Linked DNA regions of Homo sapiens. The protein of the gene in region 3 interacts with the protein of the main gene of each other region in a pairwise test. Each region holds a gene or a part of one and is shown on either strand. Other genes may lie near its edges.

Region 1 (7,032 bases), on a different chromosome or scaffold from region 3:
TTCTAATTTTTTGATATTATAAAGTGCTACAGCAAATACCATTTTATGTACATCCTTGTTCTCTTGTCCAGTATTTCCTTAGCATAAATTCAAACATGGAATTGTTTAGTCAAAAGATATTCAAAGGCTATTCACCTTTTTCTGCCTTCTGACACTACAGTGTTGTTGTTTTTTTAAGCTCAGTGGCAAGAAATAAAGTTTTGTCAAAAGACATAAAGCTTTGCCTGTTTTTATTTTTTATTTTTTGAGACAAGGTTTCGCTCTGTTGGCTGAGGCTGGAGTGCAGTGGCATGATCACGGTTCACTGCAGCCTGGACCTCCCAGGCTCAAGCAATCCTCCCACCTCAGCCTCCCTAAGTGTTGGGATTATAGCTCTCAAGCAGCTGAGACTACAGGCACCGGACACCATGGACAGCTAATTTTTTTTTTTTTTTAGAAATGGGGTCTTGCTGTGTTGCCCAGGCTTTTTTGCCTGTTGCTAATACTCTCATCAGTAGAGTCTGAGAGTGCTATCTCTCTAAGGAAAGGAATGGACAGAGATAAATATTTATTTAATAAGCAGCGTTGAGCACTTTTTACATGACAGCCTCTGTGAGGATTCATGCAGATGAGGAAGACACCTGTAGTCTTGATGAGGGTAAGCCATGTATGTAAACAATTCTACAGGGTGGCTACCATCTGCAAACAAAGGCAAATACATAATAATTGATTGATTGATATACATTATAATACATAATAAAATAACATTACCTGTTTTTATATTATTCTTGTATAAGGTAATCATAGCGAGGGATTATTGTTCTAATGGTACCTTGAATATTTGACCTGAGTTTTCTGTGACAGCCCTCATTTCACAAGATTCTGTTATTTTCATTACAGATGATTTGTTAAGTGCATAATTAAATGTGAATTAATTTCTGTGCATCAATATACTCCCAAATCAACATGCGCGCGCACACACACACACACACACACACACACACACATCTTGTAGTTTTTGGCTTGGAAAACAGGTCATGATGGTCATAAATGAGAGCATGGATCTGTGGAAAAATAAAGAGCTTAGAATCAGTTACACCTAGGTTGGAATACCACCTCTGCCACTCATTGTGGTGCGACTGTTTAACTTCTCTGAGCCTCAGGCTCTTCATCTGTAATTGTGGGTCTAATAATACCTCCCATAGGGATGTGGTGAGATTTAAATGAAGCAATGCATGCAAAATCTCCAGGTCCCTGCCCAGCCCTTAGTGGTTGCTCAGTAAGTTGCATCTAGTTTAAGGGCATGGTGCAGTGAAGGTGTTGGGGAGGTGAGAGGAGGGAGAGTTGAGACAGCCAGTGAGCCACGTCTGCATTAATATGCCCAAGTGTGTGTGTGGGGGGAACACCAAAGACCTTGGCAACTAGATGGCACTCACTTCCCCTTCTCAACCCAGAGCCTGAATGGAGGAGCCTTTCACGAATGGCCTCTTGCTCACACTACCCTTCTCTTCTGTCATTTGTGGAGTTCCTCCCAGCCTTAGCTGCAGCACCAGCTCCATCTCTTTCCCATCTCAGGGCCCCCACCTCTCCCTACTTCCAGCTCTCTGTCTTCTGGCTTCTTCTTTCACCTCGATCTCTCTTCACTGCTCTAAGCCCTCAGCCATTCACGTACTCTAATAAGATGCTTCTTTGTTGTGACAGACTCTGCAACTTAAAGAGGAAATTCTTGAGCACTTTGGGAGGCTAAGACAGGTGGATCCCTTGAGCTTAGGAGTTTGAGACTAGCCTGGGCAACATGGTGAAACCTGTCTCTATAAAAAATACAAAAAATTAGCTGGGCATGGTGGTGCACGCCTGTACTCCCAGCTACTTGGGGGCCTGAGGTGGGAAGATCACTTGAGCCCAGGAGGTCAAGGCTGCAGTGAACTGAGATCGCACCACTGCACTTCAGTCTGGGTGACAAAGTGAGACCCTGTCTCAAAGAAAAAAAAAAAAAAAGAAAAAGAAAAAGAGGACATTCATTCCATGCCCATCAAGAAGGTCTTAGACCCAGGAAGGTCAAGGCTCCAGTGGGGCATTTTAGTTCCTTCACACCTTCTGCCCAACTACTTGGAGCCCAGCCCTATGATGGTGTGGACATAATTTTCTCTCCCTAAGGGACTTCTTACCTGCCAGGACATTCCATAGGCAGATGCCCCCAGGACCGCTGACTGCCCGGTACGGGACCTGGATCATGTTAAGAATGGCAAAGCCCATGCTGACCAGAGCCAGGGCCAAGGCCAGGAAGAGGAGCAGCAGAATCATCACATGAAGGCCTGCGTTGAGCTCCTTCACCAGGTGTGGGAAGACTGGGGAGACAAGACACAGCCACTATTTCAATGTCAGAGTTAGACTCACTTTCATGAAGTCCAAGCTTGCTTACCACGAAGGCTTCGACAGACAGGGGTGAGGGCAAGACAGCAAGCGTGGGGATTTCAAACAGCGGGAGACTTTCTGAGATGAACTCATGGCCCCCAGATTCATGCTTGTCAGTTGACCAACAAGCCTCTGTTCCTTAGAGTGGACACAAAATCAAAATATGCCCTGGCTGTCAATTTAAGTTGCATTGAGCTTGAAGCTCTGGGATCTGATGTGAACTGATGCACACAGGCCCCAGTGACTTAGCAAGGTAGACCCTGGCTTATCCCCATGTATGAAGGACACATAATTCTCACGTTGCACAACGTTTTATTAAAATATTAATTTGCCTTATGAGTATGGCAAAATAAGTTAGTGAAATCTTAATTCATATTTGTTTTCTCTATGTTTGCCAGCAGTACCAGCTGTGAAGATGAAATGACATAACATAATAGAGTAGCTCAAATAGTGCCTGGGAAAGTCAGTTCTCAAAAATGGCAGCTGTGGTTATTGCTGTTATATTTTGACAGTCTTGGGAAAGTCATGTGACTTCTCAAGCCTCAATTTCTTCATCAGTACAATGGGGATAGTAATCCCTGCATATGAATTGAGGATAATCAACATTTACTAAGTGCAGTCATGGGCCAAACATTTTACATCGTCATCTTGTTCAATGTGCATGACAAAGACATGAGGTAGATTTTATAAACTCCTTATACCCACAGGCTTGGAGACATTAATTGCTTGTGTTTGGGGAAGGCAACTCTTAATTCTATATAAGATTATAGTTCAATATACTATGAGAACAAATGTGACCCTGAAAGAGCCCGTCCTTCAAGATGGGTCCTGAGTGGTTAACTGGCTCTAAATTTAAAGTAGGGCCAAGTGGCCATTTACTGACTAGGGGGTCACACGCATCTTCTGAGTTCCTTGAAAACCCACACCTTTTTATCTTTGAGATCTGCCTCAGCCAATCAGGGCTCAGCTGTAATGACCAATCGGGGCTCAGCTGTACCAGCTAATCAGGGTTCAGCTGTATCCACCAATCAGAACTAAGTGAATTTGAATCCTTTATTTACCCAAACAGACCTGACTGGAAACCTGGGTGGGAACTTTTGCTATAAAATCTGAGCCTTCCCTTTCTTCTCTGGAATACACCTTCCTTTTACACCGGAGGCTGTGTTTCCCTGGTTTGCAAACCGTTAACTGGAATAAATTCTTTACTCCAAATTCCTTTTCTGAGAACTGTTGTTCACAACTGTATGGTATCAACAGTGTCAAGTCATGATCTTTAGTAGTTTTACATGAAGAATTGAACATTATGAAAGCTACAGAACTTCTGAGCATACTCATTCCTCTGCAATTGCTCCAAGGTTCCTGCTGAATACCCACCCTGATGGAACTAGTTCCTTTGCTGGTTCACCTGCCTCTCTTAGTCACTGAAGGTTGGCGTCTCCCAGTCCTGAGAACTAGAGTTTTTGTTTTTCCCGTTAGGTGTCCCGTTAGGTGACACATTTTCAGGCACTCCACGTTTACATTGTGCGTTCTGATGTTTCTTTCCAGTTCTGAATTTCCATTTATTTTTATCTCCCTATGGTTATCTAATCAGCATTGGAAACTTTACCCTGGAAGATGAGCTCCTTTCCAGTGAGTTTGTCTTTGTAAAGCGTCTTTCTTCCCTGTGCTTCTATCCCATCTTAATGTCCCTTAGATTTTTTTTTTCTCTTTTCAAACTCTCAGCCCCTTTTTGTTTCAGACACAGTAGCTTGTGCTGATATTTATTTATTTTTATTTTTAAAGACAGAATCTTGTTCTGTCACCCAGGCTGGAGTGCAGTGGCACCATCTCGGCTTGGTGCAACCTCCTTCTCTCTGATTCAAGCAATTCTCATGCCTCAGCCTTTCCAATAGCTGGGATTACAGGCACCCGCCTCCATGCCTGGCTAATTTTTGCATTTTTAGCAGGGACGGGGGTTTCACCATGTTGACCAGGCTGGTCTCAAACTCCTGGCCTCAAGTGATCTGCCCGTGCTGGGATTACAGGCATGAGCCACCAGACCCTGCCGCTTGTGCCTGATTTTTAAATTGTTTCATTATCCCCTTTCTTAACCAGGCAATCCTTAGGACACACGACTAACATAGTAATGCTTACCAAAACTCTTACAATAGAAAACAGTCACCTATGTGAATGGTAAAGATCAAAATGTTTGCTAAAACACCGTGTTGACAATGGTGTAAGGAAGAGGCACTCTCAAGTCTCATAGAAATATTAATTCATGTAACCTTGTTAGAGGGCAATTTGGCAACATCTACTAAAGCAAATTCACTTCTAGGAATTTATTTTCCAGAAGCACTCCCACATGTGCTCAAAGCGTGGATCAAATATTGGATATTCATTACAATAGCAAAAGATTGGAGAAAAAACAGTATGTGAATAGACTGATTTAATAAAGTATCCATAATGTCCATAATGTATATAATTCATCTTTTAAAAAGAAAGAATTATATCCACATAATGATTGAAACCATATCCAGATTTGATTTTTAAAAATTGAGAAATAATCATATTAGGATGACGGGGGAGAGGGAATTTGGGGAATGTGGAGTGATGTGGAGAGGGTGGTAAAGAGTGCCCAGTCCTCGGCCTTCATAGTAGGAAGTGCATTAACTATAATTAAAAAATACTTATTGGCAAAGGGCAAATCTCACTCAACCCCCACATTCTTGGGCCATAACACAGGGCTCAGGACCTCATGTTTAATAGAGATTTTATTATTTTTTAATATATGTCATTATTTAGAAATTCGAGGCTGGGGCAGTGGCTCATGCCTGTAATCCCAGCACTTCTGGGAGCCATTATGGGGGGATTGCTTGAGGCTAGGAGTTGGAGATAAGTCTGGGCAACATAGCAAGGCTCTGTCTCTAAATTAAATTATTTTTTAAAAAAGAAGAAAAAAGTAGAAATTCAAATCATTTCTCAGGAGTGTTAATGCACCAGTTCTTTCTACTTTCTCACTGAGAGGTGACTCTGCCTTAGCCTGACACCCAGTGCTGCCCTAGGAAAGCTGTTGCTCACTTGCCTTTCACATTTGAAATCCAGGTTCCAAGAGTTTTAGATGTCTCCCACTAGGAATTAAATTTAAGTTTCTAGCTTGAAATCCATGACCCTACACACGACTCATGGTGATAAATGACAACACGATTCATGGTGATAAATGACAACAGCCACCTATATGGGGTGCAGACTATGTGCCGGTGGCTTTATACATATTCTTTGTTCTGTTGCTCATGGACACCCTCTCTCATGCTTACAAATGAGGAAACTGAGGCTCGGAGAAGTGAAATAGCTTAGCTACGCTCCCACAGCAAGAAAAGTGTCAGCTTAACTACTCTATTACAGGGCTAGAGCAGAAAAATCAGAAAGCACAGATAAGTAGAGGTTTAAAATTCTAAACATAGAGTCTTTTGAATCCTGGAGGTCTCATTTTGAATTTGAATAGATATAGTTGTTTCCTACACATTAGAGGCAACTCACTTGAAAGCAGAATTGATTAATCATTCTATCAGCATCATTCTATCAGCATATGATGCATCTATCAGCATCTATCAGCATATGATGCATCTATCAGCATCTATCAGCATCTAAGATAATTTGTTTGCTCCGAATCCCAGAGAGGTCTGGCAGTCCTTTTCGCCCCAGCAGGGCAAATAAGAAAAGCAGGACATCTGAAGTCAAACCCAGGTCCTGGCCACTAGTGGAATACCTGTGAGGCAGGAAGTAGAGAGGAACCAGAGAACTAAAAGCTGCAAAGCAATCTATTACATTAGGTGCTTTTAAAGAAATTATTTTATGTATCGATTTCTCTGGTCTCTAATTTCCTCATCAGTAAAATGGGCGTAATAAAATCTCTTCTCTAGCATAGTAAAAATGGAAGGAAATGAACTACAAGGCAATGGCTTCAGATACTGTGTTCTGTGCCTAGTATATATTTATCTGCCTCTCCTTTATCAGATGGTAAATTTTTCTTTCTTTTTCCTTTCTCTTTTTTTTTTTTAGATGGATTTTCACTCTTTTCACCCAGGCTGGAGTGCAATGGCACAATCTTGGCTCACTGCAACCTCCACCTCCCAAGTTCAAGTGATTCTCCTGCCTCAGCCTCCTGAGTAGCTGGGATTACAGGCACCTGCCACCACGCCCGGCTAATTTTTGTATTTTTAGTAGAGACGTGGTTTCACCATGTTGGCCAGGCTGGTCTCAAACTCCTGATCTCAGGTGATCCACCTGCCTTGGCCTCCCAAAGTGCTGGGATTACAGGCGTGAGCCACTGTACCCGGCCAGATGTTAAGCTTTTCTAGGGCAAGTACTTGTCTGGTTTGTTCATCCCTGTTTTCTTAAGAGCCTGGTCTGTAAATACTCCATAGTACAATTGAATGTGTGGACAATGCTAAAGTAATGTTTGTCTTTTTCTTTCTCTAGCCACCCAAACAGCCATGTTGACTTGTTTTTATTTCATAGGGCCTGGGTATAAAAAAAGGACCTTAATCTTTGCGATGGATAGTTCTTTGGTTTTCTCCATGATTGGCGTGGGAATTTATTCCCCTGGGTGATTTTTTGGGGAGGCCTCTGTGATGAGAAAAGTGGCTGTTTGTGAACGAG
Region 2 (5,057 bases), on a different chromosome or scaffold from region 3:
AGGTTGCAGGCTGTGGAGTGAGGGTGTCCAGTGAGGGTCACTCACTGTGGAGTGAGGCTGTGGAGTGAAGACTACAGGAAGGACAGGACTGCAGCAGGACCCGCCGGTCTGTGTGATGCTCAAGATGGCCATGTGTCCCCCACAGTCAGCCCAGAACCCCAAGCCACTTCAGAGAGTCAGGGCAGCCATGAGGAAAAGGGATTGTGTCCGCCAGGGCTCTGCTGTGGGTGGGAGGCAGTTCCTCAGCCCATGAGGCTTCCAGTTTCTGGAGAAACCAAGTCACTCTGTCTACACGCTCAGGGGCCCTTTCACCACTTGGAAGAGAACGAGTCTCCTTAGCAGGTGGGGAGGGGCCCATGCAGCACCTCCCTCCCAGAGGACAGTGGGGCACAGGGCTGGGCTGGGGGCTGGGACACTGGACAAGGAGCCCTGGGGCTGGGGACAGGAATGGGGCCTTGCAATTAGGGGACACCCTGAGGAAGGGGGATGAGAAGGGGAACTAGAGTAAAAACCAACACACGGAAAATCTCTGTGTTCTGCTCTGACCAAGGCTGAATAAATCCCGTGACCACTTCTCATCCTCACCCTTGTCACCCAGTTGAGGAGCCGACTGCCCCCTGCCTGGCTGGGCCTGAAGATGGGAGGAACTGGCCCTGCCCTCTTGGACTTGGCTGGGAGATGTGTGGACCCCCAGCTCCAGGAGAGGGACTGATGAGACCAGGGTCCTGGGGGGTGCACGGGATGTGGGGATGGGACGATCACAAGGAGGAAGATAGAGCCAGGCTGGAGACACCAGGACTTGGGGCAGGGGCAGGCGTTTCTGTCTGTGGGAACACAGCAGAGGGAGGCAGGGCAGAGAGTGTCCAGCGCCCCCCGCCCTCAGCCAGCGCCTACCTGAACCTTTCAGGTAAGGAAGGAATTTCTTCCACAGTGAAGTCTTTCAAACAAACACAATCAGAAGCACAATTAGAACTATGATCCCTACGATGGTGCATGAGAGGTAATGAGAAGAGGCAGGAGTCCCCGGGCTGGTGATCATTGTCTCTTCAGCAGCTGGGGCAGGAGTCCCCGGGCTGGTGGTCATTGTCTCTTCAGCAGCTGGGGCAGGAGTCCCCGGGCTGGTGGTCATTGTCTCTTCAGCAGCTGGGGCAGGAGTCCCCGGGCTGGTGTTCATTGTCTCTTCAGCAGCTGGGGCAGGAGTCCCCGGGCTGGTGTTCATTGTCTCTTCAGCAGCTGGGGTTTCCACAGTGGCATTGGCACCAAATTCTTCAACACACTGGATATCATCCCAGGACGTACAATTACTGACTTGGACTTCCCCACTAGGGCACCTGGGTACACACAGAGAGGGAGGTGAGGACTCCTGAGGGAAAGCTAGCCAGGTGGGATAAAAGGGGAGCCACCCTCCCTCTCCAATGTCCCTGAGAAGGTGTCAGGGGAAGGACAGGCTCCTGTCTGGAGGGGGTCCCCCAAGTTCCCTCGTTGAGGCTGGGGAAGGGTCTGAGCATGCGCATTTCAGCCCCTCAGCCTCCCTGCTCTGGGGCCACAGGAGCCTTCTGTGCCGGGCACACACTGAGCTTCCCTGGGCTGCAGAGGAGGCCTGCGTTAGGAGGAGCCACACTCCAGGGGAAGGTCACGAGCCCTTGTGGCCACAAGCTGAGCCCCTTCCTCCAGTCAACCCACAGTACAAGTGATCTCTCACCCCCAACTGTCTGCTGGTTCCTCCCTATCACGGCAAACATTAGGGGGCCAGAGAAGAACAAATTACTCTTGGCCCTTAAAGCCCAAATAGGGAAAAGACAGGACTTATTGAGGGATTGGGGCCAGGGGTGAGGCCGGCTGGATTGGCTCAGGCCTTCATGGGAACTTGAAGGAGCTCCACCCACAGCCTTCTTATGACTTTTGTCGGCCGTGACCACTTTTGTCTTTATGGGTCCTGCCTGCATAAAAAATATTAAAAAGAACATTTTTTAAAACAGCTTGGTATAGCAACAAATACAACCCAGACTGGATTCAAGTGTTTTCTTCTCATTTCAAAAGGAAATCGCATTTCCTAGGTTTGCTGAAAAGGATCAAGGGATCCAGAAAGTTGCTTCTTGTGCCCAGTGAACAAGTTGGTCTGGCCAAGGGGACTCGTGCTGGGGAGGGTCTGGGAAGGGGCTGCTGCAGGGGGTAGGGGTGGGGACAGGCAGATGGACCAGGAGCGGCCACTGCAGACCCAAGAGACCCCACAGGCTCAGGGACACCCCATGGGTCTGGAGGCTCCATAGGGTCAGCGGAGAAATAGGGGTACCAGGTGACTCAGGTCTTCTCGGGTTCCTGAAAGCTGTCAGGAGCCCCTGACTGCTGTCTCACCTGCTACACTTCCGGCACATCTCTGGGGAGTTTTCATTCCGGAAGGTGCCTTCTTTACACTGACACACTGTGTCTCTGGTCATGGTGCAGGAACTTTTATGTTTTTGATCTGACAACAGAGCATAAGGTTTTGGGAATGTGTTTCCCTGATGTATCCCTCGATCTTCCTTACCACCCACCCCCTCCCACTCAGCTCAACCAAGTTCACCAAGGAGTTCTAAGGGCCAGTTTCTGCACCAGCACACTCAGGGCTCATACAGGACACCCACCCTTCAGCTGTCACCAGCACTCAGAGGAGTCATAAAAAGGAGCATAATTCATTATTTATTACATCAGATTAGGGGAAAAGCATTGTTTAGATGGCATGGTCAGTAGCAAGGGAGGTGCAAGGGCATCACCTGAGAGACTCTGCAAGGAGACGGAGGCCTTGGGGGACTTCCCCAAAGCCTGGGCCTGCTGGGGAGGAGGAAGGGGCCTGAGAACCTGAAGGCTGAGTGAGGCCGAGCACCTGCCAGGAGCACAGAGCCTGGGGGAGAGAGCCTGGCCCTGGAGCAGACCCGTGCCACTACTGAAACCTAGCCCTGTCCACTGGGCCAGGCCTTCTCTATGCTCTAATGATCCCCCCACCCTCTTGCAGCTGACAGTTTAGACGATTTCCCAGCCAGGTGGCATGCATTATAGAAAAGATTTCTTTCTATTTTTTTAATCAGTCAAATATATAATCATAGAACAGGGTGATGAAGACCAGGTTGGGCTGGAACTTGGTTCCCTGACTCATATCGGCTACAACTCCCACCTCATTGCCCCACGCTCCACCTCTGGACAAGAGGTCCACACATTCTGTACCTGATTTACAAACTGTACATGGGAAGCAAGAAGGTTCATTGTTGGAAGCGTTGGTGTAATCCACACCCTCTGTGCACGGGTTACAGGCTCCAGTATGTTCTGATCTATGAGATCCTGGGAAGGAAGAGAAAAGCCAATGAATGAGTCACCACAGAATTCCCAGAGGCTGACAGTGGTGGGGAAACTTCTTTTTTGGCCCTCACTGGAATTGAGACAGAGAAATCCACTCTTCCAGGCTTGGTCTTGTCATCCATTCAGCATCTATTACATACCTTTGACTGGCACTGCTGACAGAAATATAATACAAAATTCAAATTCTATGCAAAATTCAAATTCTATGAGAGCCATATTAAAATAGTAAAAAGAATGAGGCCAAATTAATTTTAACAATATAGTTTTAACCTAAAATATCTGAAATACTACATTTCAACATGTAATCAATACACATCATTGAGATATTTTACTTTTTTTACGCCGTCACTCACAAAATAACATCCAACCTACTGTACATGTGATCTGCCCATGCTGGTCCACCTGACCTGTTTGCTGTCCACTCACCACAGTGGCCCCCTGTCTTCGCTCAGTCTCCCCAAGCCCCCGAAACCTGGGGTTCTCATTCCTTCAGGGCCTTCTCAAGAGCACTCTTCCTGGCTCTCTGCAAGACTGGCCCTGTCCAACTTTAAATATCAGCCCAAATCACCATCCCCGAGAGGCCCCACCAACCTTGTCTATCTCCTGTCACTTAACTATTCTTCATGGTTCCCATCAGGACATCCTGACTGTTATGTATATTCATGTGTCTTTTTTTTTTTTTTTGAGACAGAGTCTTGCTCTGTCACCTGGCTGGAGTGCAGTGGCACAATCTCGGCTCACTGCAACCTCCAACTCCCTGGTTCAAGCGATTTTTCTGCCTCAGCCTCCCGAGTAGCTGGGATTATAGGCGACGCACCACCACGCCCAGATTTGTATGGAACTACAAAAGACCTCAAATAGCCAAAGTGATCTTAAGCAAAACAAACAAAAGAACAAAGATGGAGGCATCGTACTACCTGATTTTAAAACGTGTTACAAAAGTATAGTAATCAAAACTGAATGGTAATGGCACAACAATGGTAAATAAACTGATGGAACAAAATAGTGAACCCAGGTATAAATCAATGCATTTACAGTTGATTGATTGTGAGAAAGATACCAAGAACACAAAATGGGGAAAGGACAGCTCTTCAATAAATGGTGTTGAGAAAAGTAGGTATTGACATGCAGAAGAATGAAATAAGACCTTTATCTCACATCATATGTAAAAATTAATTCAAAATGGACTAAAGATTAAAACATAAGATCTGAAATGGTAAAACTACCACAAGAATACATAGGGGAAAATTTTCATGATGTTGGTCTGGGCAATGGTTTCTTGACTATGACCCCAAAAGCACAGGCAACAAAAGGAAAAACAGACAAATGAGGTTACATTACACTAAAAAGGTTCTGCATGACAAAGGAAACAATGAACAGAGTGAAGAGACAACCTACAGAATGAGGGTCAATATTCAAAAGATCCAAGATTTTGGTTAAAATCCAAAATACACAGGAACTCAAACATCTCAATAGCACACAATCAAATAATCCAAGTAAAATGGATACATGGGCGTGGGACCTGAATAGACACTTCTCAAAAGGAGACATAGAAGTGGCCAAAAAGTATATGAAAAAAATGCTCAGCATCACTAACCATCAAGTGCCAAATATCACTTCACACCTGTAAGAATGGCTATTACCAAAAAGACAAAAGGTAACAAGTGTTGATGATGGGGAGAAAAAGGAATGCTGGTACACTGTTGGTGGGAATGGAAATTAGT
Region 3 (7,032 bases):
AGGCATGGAAAAGCAATTTCCTGAAAACTATTGTAACTACAAAAAAAGTGAATACCCTTTCCCTGCGTCTGCCTGGTATCCTGTGCATATCTCTATCATAATGTTTATTACATAACATATTTATCAGTTTGACTCATCTGTCCCCTCCCCTCCCATAATTAAACTACACTTTTTCTTTTTGAGACCGGGTCTTGCTCTGTTGCCCAGGCTGGAGTGCAATGGTGCAGTCATAGCTCACTGTAGCCTCAAGTGATCCTCCCACCTCAGCCCCTCGAGTAGCTGGGACTACAGGTATGCACCACCACACCCAGCTAATTTTTTTTTTTTTTTTAACTCAGGGTCTCACTATGTTGCCCAGGCTGGTCTCGAACTCCTGGACTCAAGCGATCCCACTTTACCCTCCCAGAGTGCTGGGACAACAGGCATGAGCTACCAAGCCTGGCCTTTAGACCACACTTTTGAAAATAGAGATTGTGTCCTTCTTCACTGTAGTAGCCCAGTATCAAGTACATAGTAGGTATACAAAAACATTTGTTCAAAGAAAAAGGAAGCAGGCAGGGAGATAAAAATCCCCCTGGAGTAAATAACATTGTTAAGTGTTTGCCTTAGCCTTATGTTGGTGGAGCAGTTTTTCTGTTTACCATTTATTTTATTAAGTTTGTTATAACTTAAGCTGTTGATTTTAGGGCATGGCCATTATGTTTATTATATATTATTACAGATAGACTATTTGTCTGGGTTTATATTATCAATAAAAGGATTATAATTGCCAAGATAATATATTGTCCTTAATAAGAAATCTCCTTTTATTTATTAAAGCATGGAAAGAGAAGTTTAGAGGTCATGGTTAGTAGAAAGAAGGAAGTGTGTGTCAATAGATAATTTTCTATTGACACACACTTGTTGATAATTAAAATAGATCATTTCAATTAAAATAATTTTCTATTGACACACACTTGTTGCTACATTCTTTTTTAATCTTTCTCTGTCTGCTGGGACTACTAAAGAAACTTGAACTCCAAGCATTTGGCCTCACATTTCAGAAGATTATCCTTGAAGATACAACCAATAAAGTCCTAAAGTCTCAGACAATGAAAACTATACTGAACTTGTGGTCCAGTTAAAGTGAGCACTATGGTAAGGTAGTAGAATATAGTGAAATGAGAGTGGAATTTATAATTAAAAGATTTAGGTTGAGATCACCCTACCATCACTTAAGAGATTTGTATGAAGGATGGTCCAAGAACATTTAGAACTCTGACTTACTGCCCCAAGTGTAGTCTGTTTCTCCTCCAGAGATAGAGTCCCCAAGCAGATTGTTAGTTGATATTTTCTCCATAGTGCCCAGATCCCAAAAGGTAATTCACTTCATAAAAAGTTTCTTCCTCTAAACTTATCAATAGTGATCTTAAAGTTGTGGTAATAATAATGGCTACTGCTTGTTGAATACTTCCTAAGTGTCAAGCCCTTTACATATTTTCTCGTTTTATCTCCACAACAACTGAGTGAAATAAATACTGTTCTTTTCCCCATTTTACTGATAAGAAAATTTAGTGGTAGATTTGGAATCTAACACCAAAAATGCAAGCTTTTAGCCACTGCTTAGCTGTTAATCACAGTGAAGAACTGAGAACTTTATCATCTAGTTTTCTTCTGCTTCCATTTCCCATTTTTAAATGAAAACGATGTTACCCTCCAAAGACTTATATGAGAAAAACTTAATTGTGAATAATTTTAAGATGTCCAAGTAAAAGAGCTGGGAAAAAAAAAAAAAACCTAAAAAGTGGGAGGGTTTTTGTTCTGTTTTCATGTATTTCAGGCCTAGATGAAATTTAATTAACTTAATACCCATTATGAAATTGTTTTTCTCTCCAATTTTCCTGAACATAAATGTTTTGGTGCTTCCAGACATGGGCCATGTTCAGCCCATTCTTCTGCTTTCCTGAATTCTCTAACGTCATGGTTGGAAAAGGTCTGATTTTTTTTTTAAAAAGAAAATACTTGAGGAAAGCAGTTGACAACTGCTTGGGCAGGAGATGGTTCTGTACTGTATCCCAGGATCCTGTCTGCTGTTTCAGTTTGTCTTATGTGAGAGGCAGTCTTTTTTTTTTCTTTTCCCCAAAAAAACAACACACTCAACTCATCCAGCAACTATTTAACAAATGTTTTTTGAGTACCTGTTATATACACTAAGTGTCTTCCATATTAGCTTATTTACTCATCACACTAACCTGAGGAGGTACTCTTATTAGCCCTATGTTTCAATGGGTAGACTGAGGCACAGTTGAATAATAAGGTACTTTCTCAAGATCACACAGCTAGTAAGTGGCAGAGCCATCTGTGAACCTATTATGCTATACTGTTTTCATAAAACCAAAATCTCATGAAGACACACAACTGAATAGAATAATTACAAGTGTGATAAATGTTGTTTTAAAAGGGTAAAGGGCTATTGCAGCATTATTTTAGACTGAGAGGTCCAAATTTAAAATTATTGCTGTTGCTCTCACCTATTTTTTTCCTCTTGTATGGCCTGAAACATTTGAATGCAGGAAAACTACAGAAAATCCTTAAAATATTTAGGAAATAAGACATTTATGCTTATTTACTTTCCTTATTCTTTTTGAGCTAAGCAAAGAATAACTGTTATTGCAAATCTTTCTTAGAAGTATTAGTCCATTTGTTTTCCTTAGTATTTCACAGTAAACACATTTTAAGCTTTGTAATTCAAACCACATAGTGCTTCATCAGTATCAGTTCTTTTGGTCTAGCATTTATAACTATAGATGGATTTTAATAGGGAGGAAAAGTTACAGTCTTCACTCATGGTTTTTAACTTGATACCATCTGGCCTGTAGCTACTCTAGCCCCAAGAATAATTTCTTCTCTAGAGATTTAAGGATAAGGGCATTCGAACAACTAAGCCGTGCCTAATTAAAATACTAATTTGAAAGGCAGGCTATAATGTGTGTGTGCTTGTTTGCTTTGAAATCTTCTGCCTTAAATGAATTGCAAGTTTTGATCTCTAATGAAACACTATCATTTTTTAACATACGTTTATCGAGACGCTACCATGTGGTAAACTCTGCCTCTTTCTCACTTCTAGCTTTTTTAATCTATCTCTCTTTGTAGGATTCTGTCTTCATTTTTGTTTCTCCCATTTTTACTCCTTCTATTTCTCTTATTTTCCTTCGCTTCTGCTATGTCCTTCCCTTCTTTGTCTTTTTCTCCTAAAATTCCAGTCATTTGAAAAACTTAGTTATAGTAAAAATTTGATTAATTGAAGAGGAATTTATATTCACTTACTCTACCTGCCCTTTTGCTTATTTTCACCAGGAGTTTTTGTTTATCAGGCCTTATAAAGGCCTTGCTTCAAAATAAGCAAAAGGGAGAAACTGAGAAGCTGGGAAATGTACCCTTATTTGAATAGCTGGAAGAAAGATCAAATGCATTATTTAATTTATGCAAGTCTTCCTCCTCAAATAAATAGTTGGCTGACATAAAACAGGAACAGCGTGTAACAGCCCATTGTCCAAATCTAGCTGACTCTGTTTCTGTATGTCCCACAAGTTATGAAATAGCTCTTATATTTTTAAATGATTTTAAAAAGGCAAAAGAATACTTTTTCATTACACATGAAAATTATGTGAAATTCAGATTTATGTCCATAAGTTTTATTGGAACAGCTGTGCTGTTTATGTAGGTACTATCTATGGCTTCTTTTGCACTGCAAAAGTAGAGTTGAGTAGTTGCAACAGACTGCAAAGCCCAAAATATTTAGTTCCTGGTTCTTTACAGGAAAAGTTTGCCAATCCTGACAAAGAATCACTGATGAAGAATCATAGTGGCCAAAAGTAACACTTAATCCTGAATACATATGTTTTTAAGAAGAAAGTTCAAAAATTGCCAAGACTTTTCAATTTGGCCTACTGTTACCCCTAAAAAGTGCTGCTGCAACTGAATAGCATGTGTTTTTGAGACTAAACTTCCAGCCTTTCTGTCTTGCCCCATCCAGGCAGGACTGCTCTCATCAATTTACAACATGAAGTGTTTTATTTGCACTCTGTGAAGGCAGAAGGAAAAAAGTGTCCGTTAAAAAGTGGCAGTTTAGGTATTTCAGTAATTCCTTAGCCCATCCTTTCTTATTGTGTAGGATAATGCTTATGACTCACAGTCAGATTCTCAGCAGAGGAAATCCAGTTATCTGTTGAACTTTACAATAATAAAATCTCAGTGATGAGTGGATTTATTACTCCACATGATTTCCAGTAGTGCTAAGGTTAATAGATCTGAAAGTAAATCAGCTGATGGGGAACGGGGACAACTACAGCCCTCTGGACTAATCAGCCTGTGTTGTCATCTTGGAAAGAATGTTTAACTGCCTTTCCAGAAACTTACCCAACAAAAATTACTACACAACAAATTTCATTTGTTTCATGGTTTGCTTGGTTTTCTTTTGTTTCTTCCTACAAGGTCTTTAGCCTTATTACTTTAGAACTTCAGGAGGCATATTTTAACACCTACTTCACAGATTTTTGTAAACATTATAAATACTCATGTATGTAAGGAGGAGCTACATGTGGCTAACATGTCATAGGAATTCATAAATGGTAGTTATTAGGAGTAGTAACAAAAGATACCTTCAGAATGAGAGAATTTTAAGAGTTGTATAATTTCATCTTTTCAGAAAAATTAACTTACACAGGAAATAAGCAGGTACAGAAACACTGCTAAATATATATTCAATGCAGCAGTTTCTAAGTGAGAAATTTGGACACAACAGATTTCATCATATAAAATGGAATTAATTAATTAATCTTTAATAATGATAAAGAATATGTGCTGATATGAAAAAATGTTCATAACATGGATGGGAGGGAGAAGATTTTAAATCACTGTGTATACCATTCTTTCATTATTGAAAAAATACAGGCTAGAAAAGGTTTAAAAGACGTATATCAAGGCAAAAAACATCCAGAGATAAAGTATAGATAATGTTTCTGTTTGTTGAGCTATCATTTCTAATTTTTATAGTAACTTTTGCTTTTAAAGTAAAAAAGCAATTTTAGAAAATGTATGTGAGTTTCCTGGAGGTAAGCCCAACTTGAATGTTCAATACAAAAATTCAAATGTACAGGCTTATGTCCATATTCAGACCCTTCTTTGATTAGTTAAAAGTTTATTCTACTGCCATTTTGGTAATAAAAGAAAAAAAAATACTCTAAACCAGGAGTCCCCAACTCCCAGGCCACAGACGGATCAGATCAGCAACATTAGATTCTCATAAGAGCACAAACCCTATTGTGAACTGCACATATGAGGGATCTAGGTTGTGTATTCCTTATGAGAACCTAATGTCTGATGATCTGTGGTGGAACAGTTTCATCCCAAAACCATGTTCCCCAACCCTTTCCTGTGGAAAAATTGTCTTCCACGAAACTGGTCCCTGGTGCCAAAAAGGTTGGGGACCATTGCTCTAAACTATGGCAAAGTAGTATTTACAACCAAGTATCATAGGATCCCTAATTTTTAGGAACATTCTCAACCAGCAAAATACCCACAAGTGGCCGGGTGCATTGGCTCACGCCTGTAATCCCAGCACTTTGGGAGGCCGAGGCCGGAGGATCACGAGGTCAGGAGATCAAGACCATCCTGGCTAACACGGTGAAACTCCGTCTCTACTAAAAATACAAAAAATTAGCCAGGCATGGTGGTGGGCACCTGTAGTCCCAGCTACTGGGGAGGCTGAGGCAAGAGAATGGCGTGAACCCAGGGGGCAGAGCTTGCAGTGAGCCGAGATCTCGCCACTGCACTCCAGCCTGGGCGACAGAGTGAGATTACATCTAAAAAAAAAAAAAAAAAAAAAAAAAAAGTCCACAAGTGTATTAACCAAAATATCACTATTTGTCCCTTTCCCCATAAAACTGGTAGGAAGGATTCAGTCCTAAAGTAATACATGGGAAACTTGAAGGAAATGAATTTCCTGAGATTTTAGTGAGTGAGAATTTCTTTTCTCTTATTCCCAGAAGTGGTAGATGACTAAGGGTTCATTTATAAGCCTGCTAGAGTTTAAGCCTCACCTCTGAGCTATGCATTTATAGCACAACATGCTATAAATAGACACAGCTGGAATTAAGAGGGCTTCCTCTGTAAAAACATCAGATTTCAGTCTCAGAACTCTAGTGATGCATTCCCAACTTAGATACTGTGTACCTTTTTGAGGGGTAACCAGGTGGGGAAGAATTTTGAGAGGTGAAGGTAGGATACTTTCATTTTAAAGTCATTAGAAAAATATGAAAGTGCCATTTTCCCAGTGTATACACTGATTATTTCTAGCCAAGCATTTGATATGTGAAAGACCAAATCCAGTTTTCAAAATGTGTACTTAATTCCTTGTTCCTGGTGATTTGCAATCCCATATACACATCTGGGGTTCTCAAAAACACAATGTGACATGGGAACTGACACAAAAAAAACTGGGCTGAACTTTTTGGCTTGTCCTCATGTAGATCATAAATGAACTTTTTGAGAGTCTTTGAATGTCCCAGCCTAGCCAGACTGGGGGCAGGTATGAAGCAAATGGCAAATTAAATTGTTTAAGAGGCTTTTGATCAAAAAGGGTAAATGCTATTTTCCCATTTTTCTTCATGAAGATACAAACACTTAAGTAAAATAGAAGGATTACAGAAAACTATCATCTACATTTACTGATCATTTTATCTGTATTCTACAAGGCCAGCCTAATAATCTTTACTTTCCACCGGTAAGGAAACTAAGGTTCAAAGAGGTAAAGATCATGCAACTAAGAAGTATCAGAAGTGAAATTCAAACATAGTTACTCCTCGTTCTCAGGGAATCTCAGTGTAATAAGGGATATAAATGCACAAGAAATTAAAATATTAGATTAAAAAATAATAAAAGATTAAAATCCTACATTGGAAGGTCAATTAAAAATAAATAAAAAATAAAAGATTAGACAAGATATAAGTGCCATAAGATAATTTTCAAAAAATGCTATCGAGATTCAAAGGA

What was found. The genes of interacting proteins can lie anywhere in the genome.
Region 1: the proteins of STOM (region 3) and CLRN2 interact in binary tests that used the Homo sapiens proteins (3 or more experiments, as listed by UniProt).
Region 2: the proteins of STOM (region 3) and TNFRSF10C interact in binary tests that used the Homo sapiens proteins (3 or more experiments, as listed by UniProt).

What each region holds. Positions count from the first base shown.
Region 1 is NC_000004.12:17,518,159-17,525,190, reverse strand, and holds part of CLRN2 (clarin-2), read right to left. Parts: intron 2,328-7,032; coding exon 2,148-2,327; intron 1-2,147. UniProt on the Homo sapiens protein: Plays a key role to hearing function. Required for normal organization and maintenance of the stereocilia bundle and for mechano-electrical transduction.
Region 2 is NC_000008.11:23,112,915-23,117,971, reverse strand, and holds the end of TNFRSF10C (tumor necrosis factor receptor superfamily member 10C precursor), read right to left. Parts: intron 3,316-5,057; coding exon 3,202-3,315; intron 2,465-3,201; coding exon 2,356-2,464; intron 1,332-2,355; coding exon 941-1,331; 3' UTR 527-940; downstream 1-526. UniProt on the Homo sapiens protein: Receptor for the cytotoxic ligand TRAIL. Lacks a cytoplasmic death domain and hence is not capable of inducing apoptosis. May protect cells against TRAIL mediated apoptosis by competing with TRAIL-R1 and R2 for binding to the ligand.
Region 3 is NC_000009.12:121,360,221-121,367,252, reverse strand, and holds part of STOM (stomatin), read left to right. Parts: intron 1-1,007; exon of another isoform or gene 1,008-1,137; intron 1,138-7,032. UniProt on the Homo sapiens protein: Regulates ion channel activity and transmembrane ion transport. Regulates ASIC2 and ASIC3 channel activity.